Linked DNA regions of Homo sapiens: all the other regions are linked to region 3. Evidence: fine-mapped expression QTL. A gene starts in region 3. Each other region holds a variant in brackets. All regions are shown on one strand. Distances are from middle to middle.

The links. PIP is the estimated chance that this variant, and not a neighbour inherited with it, causes the effect. A credible set is the group of variants that fine-mapping cannot tell apart.
Region 1: its variant is the best candidate, but not a certain one, in a credible set for the expression of SYT13 in skin (TwinsUK, PIP 0.77).
Region 2: its variant is the best candidate, but not a certain one, in a credible set for the expression of SYT13 in nasal epithelium (TOPMed, PIP 0.74).
Region 4: its variant is the best candidate, but not a certain one, in a credible set for the expression of SYT13 in iPS cells (PhLiPS, PIP 0.81).

What each region holds. Positions count from the first base shown.
Region 1 is chr11:45,258,496-45,261,179 of GRCh38, forward strand. All of the region lies in intron 1 of SYT13 (synaptotagmin 13), which reads right to left. Among named protein-coding and RNA genes, the nearest start is that of SYT13, 27 kb to the right of the region's middle. The variant G/T (reference allele first, on the strand shown) is at 1,263.
Region 2 is chr11:45,262,988-45,265,671 of GRCh38, forward strand. All of the region lies in intron 1 of SYT13 (synaptotagmin 13), which reads right to left. Among named protein-coding and RNA genes, the nearest start is that of SYT13, 22 kb to the right of the region's middle. The variant C/G (reference allele first, on the strand shown) is at 1,547.
Region 3 is chr11:45,285,225-45,287,908 of GRCh38, forward strand. It overlaps SYT13 (synaptotagmin 13), which reads right to left and starts at 1,117. Exons shown (of 6, transcript NM_020826.3): 1 at 801-1,117. The coding sequence starts at 983. RefSeq lists an enhancer at 512-1,298.
Region 4 is chr11:45,240,950-45,243,633 of GRCh38, forward strand. It overlaps SYT13 (synaptotagmin 13), which reads right to left. Exons shown (of 6, transcript NM_020826.3): 6 at 1-2,684. Among named protein-coding and RNA genes, the nearest start is that of SYT13, 44 kb to the right of the region's middle. RefSeq lists an enhancer at 2,682-2,684. The variant A/C (reference allele first, on the strand shown) is at 1,194.

The DNA.
Region 1 (2,684 bases), 27 kb before region 3:
GCTGCAAAGAGATGAGAGACACCATTGCTTTATTTTCAGGTATAGGTGAGTTAGGGATGATCACAAACAGGTGAAATAAATAAGTATATTTGGCCACTCTGGACCACAATACAGAAGCAGACGGGAGGCAGTATGTGTAAATAACACATGATGGCCAGTGCACAGTACATGCAGGGCACAATCAGGGGTGCCTGGGAGGCCGAGCTGGCCTTCAGGGAGGAGCCAGGGCATGACTGAGACCTTGAAAGAGAGGGGGATTTGGAAGGCAGAGGCGAAGACCGGGCTTGGGGGAGTAAAAGTCTGTGCTTCTGACAGCAGATGCTCAGGGTCCTTGGAGGAGACACACAGAGCGATGACTAATGTCCCCGTCTTTCTACCCTACACAAAGTCACCTCCACCTTCAATATCTCATATAACTCTGTATTACCTTCATCCTACTGTTTCACAATGAGGAAACTGAGGCTCAGGGAAGCTCACGATCATACAACTGACAAGTGGTATGTATCATCCAGCCTCCAGATGTTTTCACTTCAAATTTCTTGTCATTTCCATTGCCCTGCAGCTGCTTCTCAACACCACCCCCTTGCCCCCTGCAAAATCCCTGTCGGTCTTGCCACTGGATTCTAAATGGCAATCACAGCATCTCAGGGGCCCACCCACTGCCACTCCCTCCCATTCATCGGCACAAAAGCGTTCCCAGAGGCTGCTGGGCCTCAGCACACACCTGACTTAAAGTCACCCTCTACTGTCACTTGGTTGGGACCAGAACTAAGACTGTTTGGGTGGTCTGGGAAACATTTTTGTGTTTATATTTGGTTTCATCCCAATTCAATCGTCTGAGAAAAGGGCTGGGCTTCATTCCCAGTTTGATGCAATTTGGATGAATTTGCATTTTCAAGGGGGAAATAATCACTGGGCTCAGCTCTGAATGAAGTTCACTCTGTGTTGCCTCAAGTCTTGACACTCTGGCTCTGCCTTCCTCCCTCCTCAGTGGATCTCAATTTGTATGTCCCTGATAACCTCAGGAGCTTGTTACCAGAGCTTAAAATGCACCCCTAGAGCAAAAGATTGGGCATTTCTTGGTTGTCTACCAATATCCATTCCCTCTCCCATCTACCCGCCCTACACAACACCAGGTTGTCTAGGTTCCATCCCATCCCCAGCTCCCAGGAAGAGGTCAGATCCTTCCATTTCTTGGCATTATCTTGGTGACTGATTCCCAGGGGTTGGCACCAGTCCTGGGGAAACCAACCCAGATGGAA[G/T]GGAGGGACTTGGATTCCACAGTAGTAGAAGTCCCCTCCTCCCTGGACAGGAAGCGGGTGGCCCTGCCTTGTGACTGCAAGGTGAGTCAGCCTTGGGGCAGCAGAGTGGAGAGACAGAAAGAACCTGTGTCCTTGATGGCAATGTCATTAAGCTGCTCAGCCAACCAATCCAGCAATCTGTCTTGCTTCTGCATTTCAAGTTACGTGAGTAGTACTGTTCTTATTGTTTAAGCCAGTTTGAATTGGGATTTTTGTGCCTTGCAGCCAAGAGCATCCCAAACTGATGCATTGCCTTTTTCAAGCATCACAGGAGATCATGACCCTGGTGTAGAGAAACTGGGCCTAGGGTAGAAAGAAACCCTCTTGAATCTCTGCATCCAGCCCAAGGCATCCTCATTTGCTGTTTATTCTTATCCCACTTTATCCTGTGTGGCAAATGGCTGGCTTTAGCTGGGAATGACTTACAGCCTTTGCCCAGGCCAAGAGCAGAGTCTGATGACAGCTACATGAGTCTTTTCAAGGAGCAAAAGCAGCAGCTGATTACCTATCTCCTTCTCTTGTGCAATCTTATTTATTGCATTTCAAACCTGGTTCCATCACATCTTTCAAATGCATCTATATTTGCACTTAAATAGCTGAAACTTCAGTGCCAGAGAAACAGAAAATAGGTTCAGGGGTTGAGAGAGGGAGCCTGGGAGAGGGTTCTAGGTGAAGAACAAGAATGTCTGGGGGAAGGAGGTGCTCAGGGTAGCAGGGCCCTAGAGAGAGACCTTGCTCCAGCCTTCCACCATGGGTGCAGGAGGGACAGGACTTAGAATCAGATATTCTCTGTCTACGTGTCCCTTGAAGCCCAGGAATAGAGCCTGGGAAGTATATCTGCAGGATGAATGAGGGAAGATTTCCAGTGGAGACAGGCATTCAACAATTAGAGGATGGGTGCACAGCTGTTCTTGGCATTGCATGCACATCTGGATAGAAGAATCACACCCTCAGATGTGCATCAGACCCCTCAAATGCCTCCTTAGATTCTCCGCCTCACCTGTCCCTGGGACCTTTGGCTGCTTGCTCCCCCCACTGTGTCCAACCAGCTGTCCATGGGCACAGCAACACAGGTCCTCACACTGGGCTCAAGCCATGCCCCTCTTGCCTTCTGCCCTGGGACTTCTCCATGCCTGCTGAGTTATGAGACACCAGGGACACTCTGTCCACTCAGAAGCAACCCAGATGTGCAGAGAGTTAAAGCTCCATAGGGGAACTCAGCAACAAAAACCCAAACAACCTGATTCAAAATGAGCAAAGGATTTAAATAGACACTTCTCCAAAGAAGATATGCAAATGGCCAATAAGCACATGAAAAGATGCTCATCATCACTAATCACCAGAGAAATGCCATTAAAACTACAGTGAGATACCACCTCACAC
Region 2 (2,684 bases), 22 kb before region 3:
AGTCACCCTGGATGCCAAGTGGCAGTGACTCAGTAATGCCCCTGTGCTTGTCCTCTCTCCTCCCAGGCCCTGCCCACCATTCCCTGGCTCCTGCTTCCTCATGAAGGGTAGCACAGACGCCTCCGGCTCTGCCTCCAGTAATAATCCAGGCAGAGACAGATGGCACGGGGGGTGGAACCTGAACCTTCATTAATGAACAAATATTTACTGAGCCCCACTACAGGCCAGGTCCTATGCTAAGTGTTCAGAATATGGGAGTAAACAGGACAGATGCTGTCCTTCCCTTATGGGGCTTATGTTGGAAAACCAAAACTTAATTATGTAGTTAATGATCTGTAAACAAACGTTTAACCTTACCAAAGATGCTAGGTGACCCCTTTTGTGACATGATTAATTTTTCACCTTAGGGCTGTTTATTAATTTGGGGTTTCATGCTGGGACATCCCTCTTACAGTAGCACTGCACCACCCAGGAGGTTGCAGGTGGGGGAAGCAGATCCAGCTGAAAAAGAGGTCATCTTTGCTCCTTAAACTTGAACTTTAAAAAAGGGGAGGGCAGAGAAGAAGCATCCAGTTGAGCATCCAGTATTCAGATGATGCCAACCATGGGCCACTGCTGCTGCTGGGGTCTATAGTATAGCTAAGCCCCCGCCAAGGGGGTAGTGAGGCCAGGGCAAAGGGACCTGCAAGAGTCTGTCGCTCTGGCCTCTAATACTGGCGATTATGCACACTAACGTGTATATAATGAAATATATCCTGCTGGTCAGGTATTCAGGCTCTAAAACAAGACAGCTTAGTTGGAGTCTGGGCTCTGTCAATTACTTGCTGTGTGACCTTGGGTCTGATTAATTAACTTCTCTGTGCCCAGTTTCTTCATCTGTAAAATGGGGATGCTAACAATAGCATCTATCTCCTGGGGTTGGATTGAGGCTTAGATAAGATAACTCACGCAGAGCTCTTAGGACAGAGGCTAGCCCAGCCAACCCTCGACAAATGTCGGCAATATTTATGTGACCCTAGGGTCTAGTCAGGTGCTACAAAAAGTGGGGTTTGTGTGTAGGGACCAGTTGATGAACTACTTTTTGTTGTTGTTACTTTTTTACTCATTTGTGATAAATATAGACATTGAGTGTGAGCATTACAACAAAACTAAACTAAGCTAAACTGGATCCTCTCTCACAGATGGTTGGGGAAGCTCTGGTCTAGATCAAGCATTCTCACATCAGAGCCACCATGGTAGGTGCCTCTATGATGAGACCTCTCAGTGTCCCGTCCCTTGGTGTCCACGCCCTTGTATAATCCCCTGTCCTTGAGTATGGGCTGGACCTAGTGACTTGCTTCGAATGAACAGATTATGCAAATGTGAGAAGACAATGCTTCTAAGATTAGATTACCAAAAAAATGACATTCCATTTTCCTTGCTCTCTCTCACCCACTCCCTCTGATAAAACACACTGCAATGTTGAAAGCTTTCCTATAGAGAGCCCCATGTGCAAAGACCCGAGGGCACCGCAGGAAGAACTGAATCCTGCCAACAACCACAAGAG[C/G]AAGCTTGGAGGTAGAGGTTGCCCCAGTCAAACCCTGAGATGAGCACAGCCCCAGAGGACACCTTGACCACAGCCTGGCAGAGATTCTGAGCCAAAGGACCTAGGTAAGCCATGACTGGATTTCTGACCCCACAGAAACTGAGATAATAAGCATTGTTGTTTTAAGCCATTGTGTTTTGGGGTAGTTTGTTACACAGCAATAGATAACTAATACAGCTGTTTGTGAGAATTACCCAGGAAGATGTTAAAAAAAATGTAGACACCACTACACACCCACTAAAATGGCTAAAATCAAAAAGACTGACAACACTAGTGTGGACAAGGATGTGAGACATTTGGGATGGTCACTAGTGCCGGTGGAAGGGAAAATGGCAAGCCACGTTGGAAAACTGGAAGTTTCTTAAAAGTTAAACATAAATCTACCCTATGACTCAACAGTTTTTATCCACTCCCACGTATTTATCCAAGAGAAAGGAAAACATGAATCTGCAAGAAGACTTAGACATGGCTACTGAGAGCAACGTGACTCATCCTAGCCAAACGCTGAAAGCAGCCCAGCCTTCCACCAACAGGACAATGGAGAAGTCCATTGGGGCATATTCTTACAATGGAATATTCCTCGACCAACAAAAGGAATGAGTTTCAGGTACACTCAACAATAGAGAAGAATTACCAAAACATGCTGAGGAAAAGAAGACAGCTGTCTACGCATACATACTGCATGATTCCACTGACAGTGCTGGATCTCAGCCAGGGACAATTTGGCCGCTCAGGCGACATTTGCAGTGTCTGGAGACATTTTTGGTTGCCACAACTGGAGGCAGTGGAGCTGCTATTGACCACAGTCACCATGGGGGTTGGGAGCTGTTCCTGGAGGCCAGGAATGCTGCTAAGCATGCCACAACATCAACCCCTATCTCAGTTTGGATAGCTATAAAACTTACCGTAAACTGGGTAGCTTCGACAACAAATGTTCATTTCTCACAGTTCTAGAGGCTGGAAGTCCAAGATCAATGAGCTGGTGAATCTGGTATCTGGGGAAAGCCCACTTCCCGGTTTGCAGAGAGCCATTTTGTTGCATCCTCACATGGTTGAGAGCAGACAGCATCTCTCTCACATGTCTTCTTCAAGGGCACTA
Region 3 (2,684 bases):
CAAACTGCTTCCCCAGACCCCTTCTGCTGCTCTTTACAATGGGAGCACGGGCTATTTCCTGCACGAAGGGGCTCTGGCCATGAGCAAATGCATGGGATAAAAGCCCTCCTGTCTCCAGGGACGTCTGCAGAGACATCTTGGGGGAGGCCATACCAACCCCCTCTGACTGGCTGGAGCTCAGAGCTGCTAGGGGGTGGGGAAGAGTCCTTCAGGTTCCTCCCGGATTCAGCTCTCTAGACCCCGCTAGCTAGCTTCCCAGCTCCTGCGGGACCGCGGCCACCTCCCCTCTGGCTTTGCAGGCATTACCTCTTCTCAGCTCTGGCAGGACTTGCCCTACCCTGGCTCCACAACCACCACCCATCTCCCTCTCACAGACCCCAGTCTTCTTCCCAATTCTGCAAACTCCTCATTCTCTGGTACCTCTCAGGGTCTTCCCTAACCCTGGCGATTCCCCTCCCAGCCTCCCTCTCCTCTTACCCTTCCCAGCCCTAATTCTTATCCAGGTCCCCTTTCCTGTCCCCTCCCTTTAGGTCTCGCTGCTGGCCCCCATTCTTCTCTCAGTCCCCACAAGCTCGCCGCTCCCTAATTCTCCTTCAGGTCTCGTCTCCCCCATCCCCTAGCCTCCCCCATCCCCCTACCTTTTTGACTCCTTGACCTGTCCTCCAACGCGTCTGCTGTCCCCTCCCCGCCAAGCTTTGTCGCGCAAAGATCCACGACCGCCTCCCACCCCAGTTCCCCCTCTGCAGCTGCCCGGCAACCCCGCCTTGCCCGGGAAGGGCCTGCGCGCCGCCCCCGCTCACCTGTTGTGCAGACCCGAGCAAGCTGGGCTTCGCCTTCTCCAGGTCGGGGTCCTGGTCCCGCGGCAGCAGCCCCTTCTTGGGGTGCATGTGCCGACACAGGCAGGTGACCCCGCACAACGCGAGGATGCTGGTGGCTGTGCCCAGCGTGGCGCCCAGCGCGATCACAGGCACCGACAGCACCATGGTGCCCGCTCCCGGCGAGGGGCTGGGTCCCGCAGCCGCTCACCTTCCCCGGGCCGGGCCCGCCTCCAGGCAGCTCCCGGGATCCGGGCGAGCCAGCAGCTCTCCCGCCGCCAGAGGGGCGGGGACGGAGGGAGGGAGGACGGCTGCGAGGACGTCAGAGGAGGCTGGACCCGCAGCCACGTCAACCGGCAACCCCCTCCCCGCCAACACGTGACCGGACCCCCACCCCAACAGGAGCCGGAGCCTTCCAGGTGGAAGGAGCCTTGGGGTTGTTTCAGGCCATTCTTAATGCTTTGTGTACAACAGGGGACAACTGGGCCCAAGAAGTGCTGGAGCTTGCGGAGGTCACACTGTGTTAGAGGACAAACCTGGGCTCCAACCAGATCTGCGACTCTAGGAGTCACTTTCCCAGACTACTAGCTCCTTGCTCACCCTTCTACCCCAGCAGCTGGCCAAGCTGGCTGTAAAATTGGGTCTTCCGGGAGCTTTTTCAAACACAAAGCTGGAGATTTCCCAGCTCCCCAACCTGGGAGATGGTTCTTACAGGGAAGAGGAACAGGCCACAGGTAGAGGGAACAGATGGGATGTTTGGGTTGAGGCTGTACCTGTGTCCTGCTGAAGATGGACAATACAGCTGCATCCCCTTAAGGGTTGCCCAAGAGTTCACCTTTATTACCTAATCAGCAGGTATTCGCACCTTTATATATAGTTGAGGAAGCCGAGGCTCAGAAGAGAGGTGCACAGGTAGAAAAATCATCACCCTGAACCCAAGCTTATGTTTGCAGATTCCAAGTCCACACTCAAACGGACTTGTCTTAGGAGGATAAAGAAGATAAAATGCAGCAGCTAGGAGTACACACTTGATTCAGAGAGGGTGAGCATAAAACTATGCTTAGAACAAGGGGAAATTAGAATTCCGGGCATGAGGACTGTCTTAGCTCAAGAAAACAGTGGCTTTTTAGTGTTCTTCATTATATGGAGTGTTGAATTTAATTCAGCAGATATTTGCTGTGGGTTGGCTGTGCTCTAGGTGTGCTGGGCATGTGTGAAAAGGGATGTAGGTGATTTCATCCACAACAGAGCTTTCACATTTCTATGAGCCAATGTCTCCTAAATCTATAGCCTCTCCAGCCAGACCTTTTCCTCTGAGCTGTAGCTGTGACCACCACCTGGGAACCCACCCGTCCTCCAGTTTTTCAGCTATCTACACTTGCATAAAAACCCACCGATGACTTACTGGCTTAGACCAGTTATTGTGTTACTTGTCATGATTTCATGGGTTGGCTGGGCTCAGTTGGGTGGTTTTCCTGCTCAACATGTTGTCTTCTGGGACTGCAGTCATCTAGGGGTTCAGCTGGACTGGGACATCAGCTCTCCAGACACCATTGCAGATGGTGCAATGGTGAACTCACGTGGTGAGCAGTAGGTGCTGGCTGCCACTGGGATCACAATGGGGCTGTCAGCTGGTGCATTTTGGTTGTCCTCTATGTCACCTCTCCATGGTGCTGGAGCTGCTCACAGCATGCTGGCTGGATTCTAAGAGGAATGAAGCAGAAGCTGCCAGTTGTCTTAAGGCCTGGGTTCAGAAATTCTAGAACACTATTTGATCAAAACAATAGTCTCCCTCTAGTTCTTTCCTTCAGTGACATCAAAAGGAGGTGTCCAAAATACAAAGCTGATCATGTCACTCACAGCTCTCAA
Region 4 (2,684 bases), 44 kb before region 3:
GTACAAGGTAAGCTGATGCAAAGACTACTGAAATATTTTTATTTGGCAGTTTGACATCTCTGGATAATTTAAAATTCACTAAGATGGAGTTTTAGTGGAAAAGCAGAGCAATTATATTCTCTTCATCTGTTGATTACATTTACATGGAGAGCAATGAGTTGCCATTAGGCAAATAGTAATACTCATTGTCATGAATTTCTAGCTTGACTGCTAAGACATCTGATGCCTTTACCATTGAGAACTCAGCTAGGACTTTAATTTTTATGCCATTTGCAGTGTCTTTTTCTGCCTACTCTGCCAGCCACTCTTAATTCATTAATTCACTCAACAAATATATATGAATATATATGGAGCACCCATGAGACAGCTTTATCCCAGGCACTTAGAATACAGTGAACATAACAGACAACTCTCCTTCAAAATGTATCTCATTTCTGTAATCCCTGCTAAGTGAGGTCAAGGCTGACATCTAAGATGTTCTGTGGCGGAACCTGGCCCCCATCAGGGGCAACCTTTAATTTGGATTCTGGAAGACTAAAACTTTGAGATCCCTCCCCCGCCCCGCCCCCCCAAAAAAAAGAAGAAGAAGAATGAAAGGATGCTTCATGACCAAATGATGATGGGTGGAGTTGATAATTCTGGGATCGGGGCCCCGCCCAGCCCACCTGAAATTCCTTTGATGGTACTATAAGGCAGCTGCACAGATTTATAAGGAGCCATGTTTCCTGATTTTTGGTCTAGAATCCAAATTTTCTAGATTGGAGTAGTAGATGTTACCAAGAAGAGAATGCTGGTCAGCTTTCAGCTTATAGGAAATGTTTTGTTTTCTTTTACCCACACCAACCAAAGAGAAGAAACCAGTATGGTGAAGAGATCTCTAAAACATTTCATAGGAAGCCACTAACAAGTGCTTTGCCTACACAACACTTGGCAGGGGCTGGCCAACCTCAGTGATGAAGGTTTCCAATTATCCAAAAGACTTCTCATGAAAGAGGGATTCGATATTTTTTCTGTTTTTTCAGAGGATGGTTAGAAGTTATTTCTAATGCTTTTCTATTTCTGTACAGAAAGAAAAAATAATGACCACAGGTTATAAGGCTCCTGCTCAGATTCTCAGGGAGAGGCCAAGTATGACTTGACTTGTTGAAGGAATGAAGCCCTTACCCATCTTGTCCAGAAATTCTGTCTTAGGG[A/C]AGTGGATTAGGGTGACATCTGAAGGCCCAGAGTTTTAATATTAATAGAGAGGGGTCCAAAGGCAGAATCCATGGTTCTGGAAATGCCACGATGCTTCTGGCACTTTCTGGGCATTCTCAGCTGCCAAATTAAAGTGAAAAATAGGCCGGGCGCGGTGGCTCAGGCCTGTAATCCCAGTACTTTGGGAGGCCGAGGAGGGTAGATCACCTGAGATCTGGAGTTGAAGACCAGCCTGGCCAACATGGTGAAACCCCATCTCTACTAAAAGTACAAAAATTAGCCAGGCATGTTGGTGGGCACCTGTAATCCCAGCTACCCAGGAGGCTGAGAGAGGAGAATCGCTTGAACTTGGGAGGCGGAGGTTGCAGTGAGCCGAGATCGTGCCACTGCACTCCAGCCTGGGCAACAAAGAGCAAAACTCCGTCTAAAAAAAAAGGTGAAAAATAGTAACTTAGCTTAAAGATGATCTGCTGGTGGCCTCAGAGTTTGTTTTTAGCCAGAGAGTGCCTACAGGTTTTGAACACTATTTCATCTAGTATATCATTCATTGGGGTAGGCTTCCTAGTCATTAGTCCTATCTTACACAGCTGGCCAAACAGGTGCTGAAGGGCAATGTCAACAACAGAACCCAGGAATCCTGGTTCAGGTGTAAGTACCGTATCCACTCAGCAAGGCTCATAATTTAGATTTAATTAACAATGTGGACATCTGTTTAGAATAACAAGGTAGGAATTCAAAACCTAGCTGCTGGTTATTTACCCATTCAAGTGAAAACAGACAGAGGGAGGCACAGTTGCAAAAGACCTGATTTCCTTTTTAAAATTATCTTTCTTCTCTACCTACATGTAGCCAGATGTCATAGACTAAGTCAATAACTAAATTCCTCCTGAAGTGACTGGAACGCTGAGAAGGGACCGGTCTATCTCAGAGTCACTTTGGTGATGCTGGTGGGTGTGACATCTAGCAATCAGAACCCAGCCAATGACTCACAGGAGATCCCACCTGTACTTTGTTAGGGATGGTCTCCCCAAGGATAATAGAAACTGATTTTAAGATAAAAACAATAAAATTCTTCAATAAAAAGCACAAAATTCAGTCCAAGAGCAGGGGGCTTATGAAATGCACAAATTAAAGTATTAAGAATTAAAATAATTAAATTAAAAAGCTGAGGCCCCAGATTTCACCCTGATGGTTGAGGTGTCCAGCATTGGAACTGGCTGCACCATGGTTTTGGGACTCCATCAAGGACTGTGGCCAAAAACCTGTGTGGAATATTGTAGAAGGAATTTCTCCACATACAGTGCTCCACCCTCTACATCAGCTTGTTAAAAAGGAAGGCTCCTGGGCTTCGACCAGGAATACCGACTAGGAATGTCTCCAGGCGAGCCCAGGAATCTGCTGGTGACTCTTCACATGCTAAAGTTTGAGAACTGCCGGGTGACTGCCCTGCATGGTGAGCTTGATTGAACGCTGGCTAAGGTTTCTTTCCA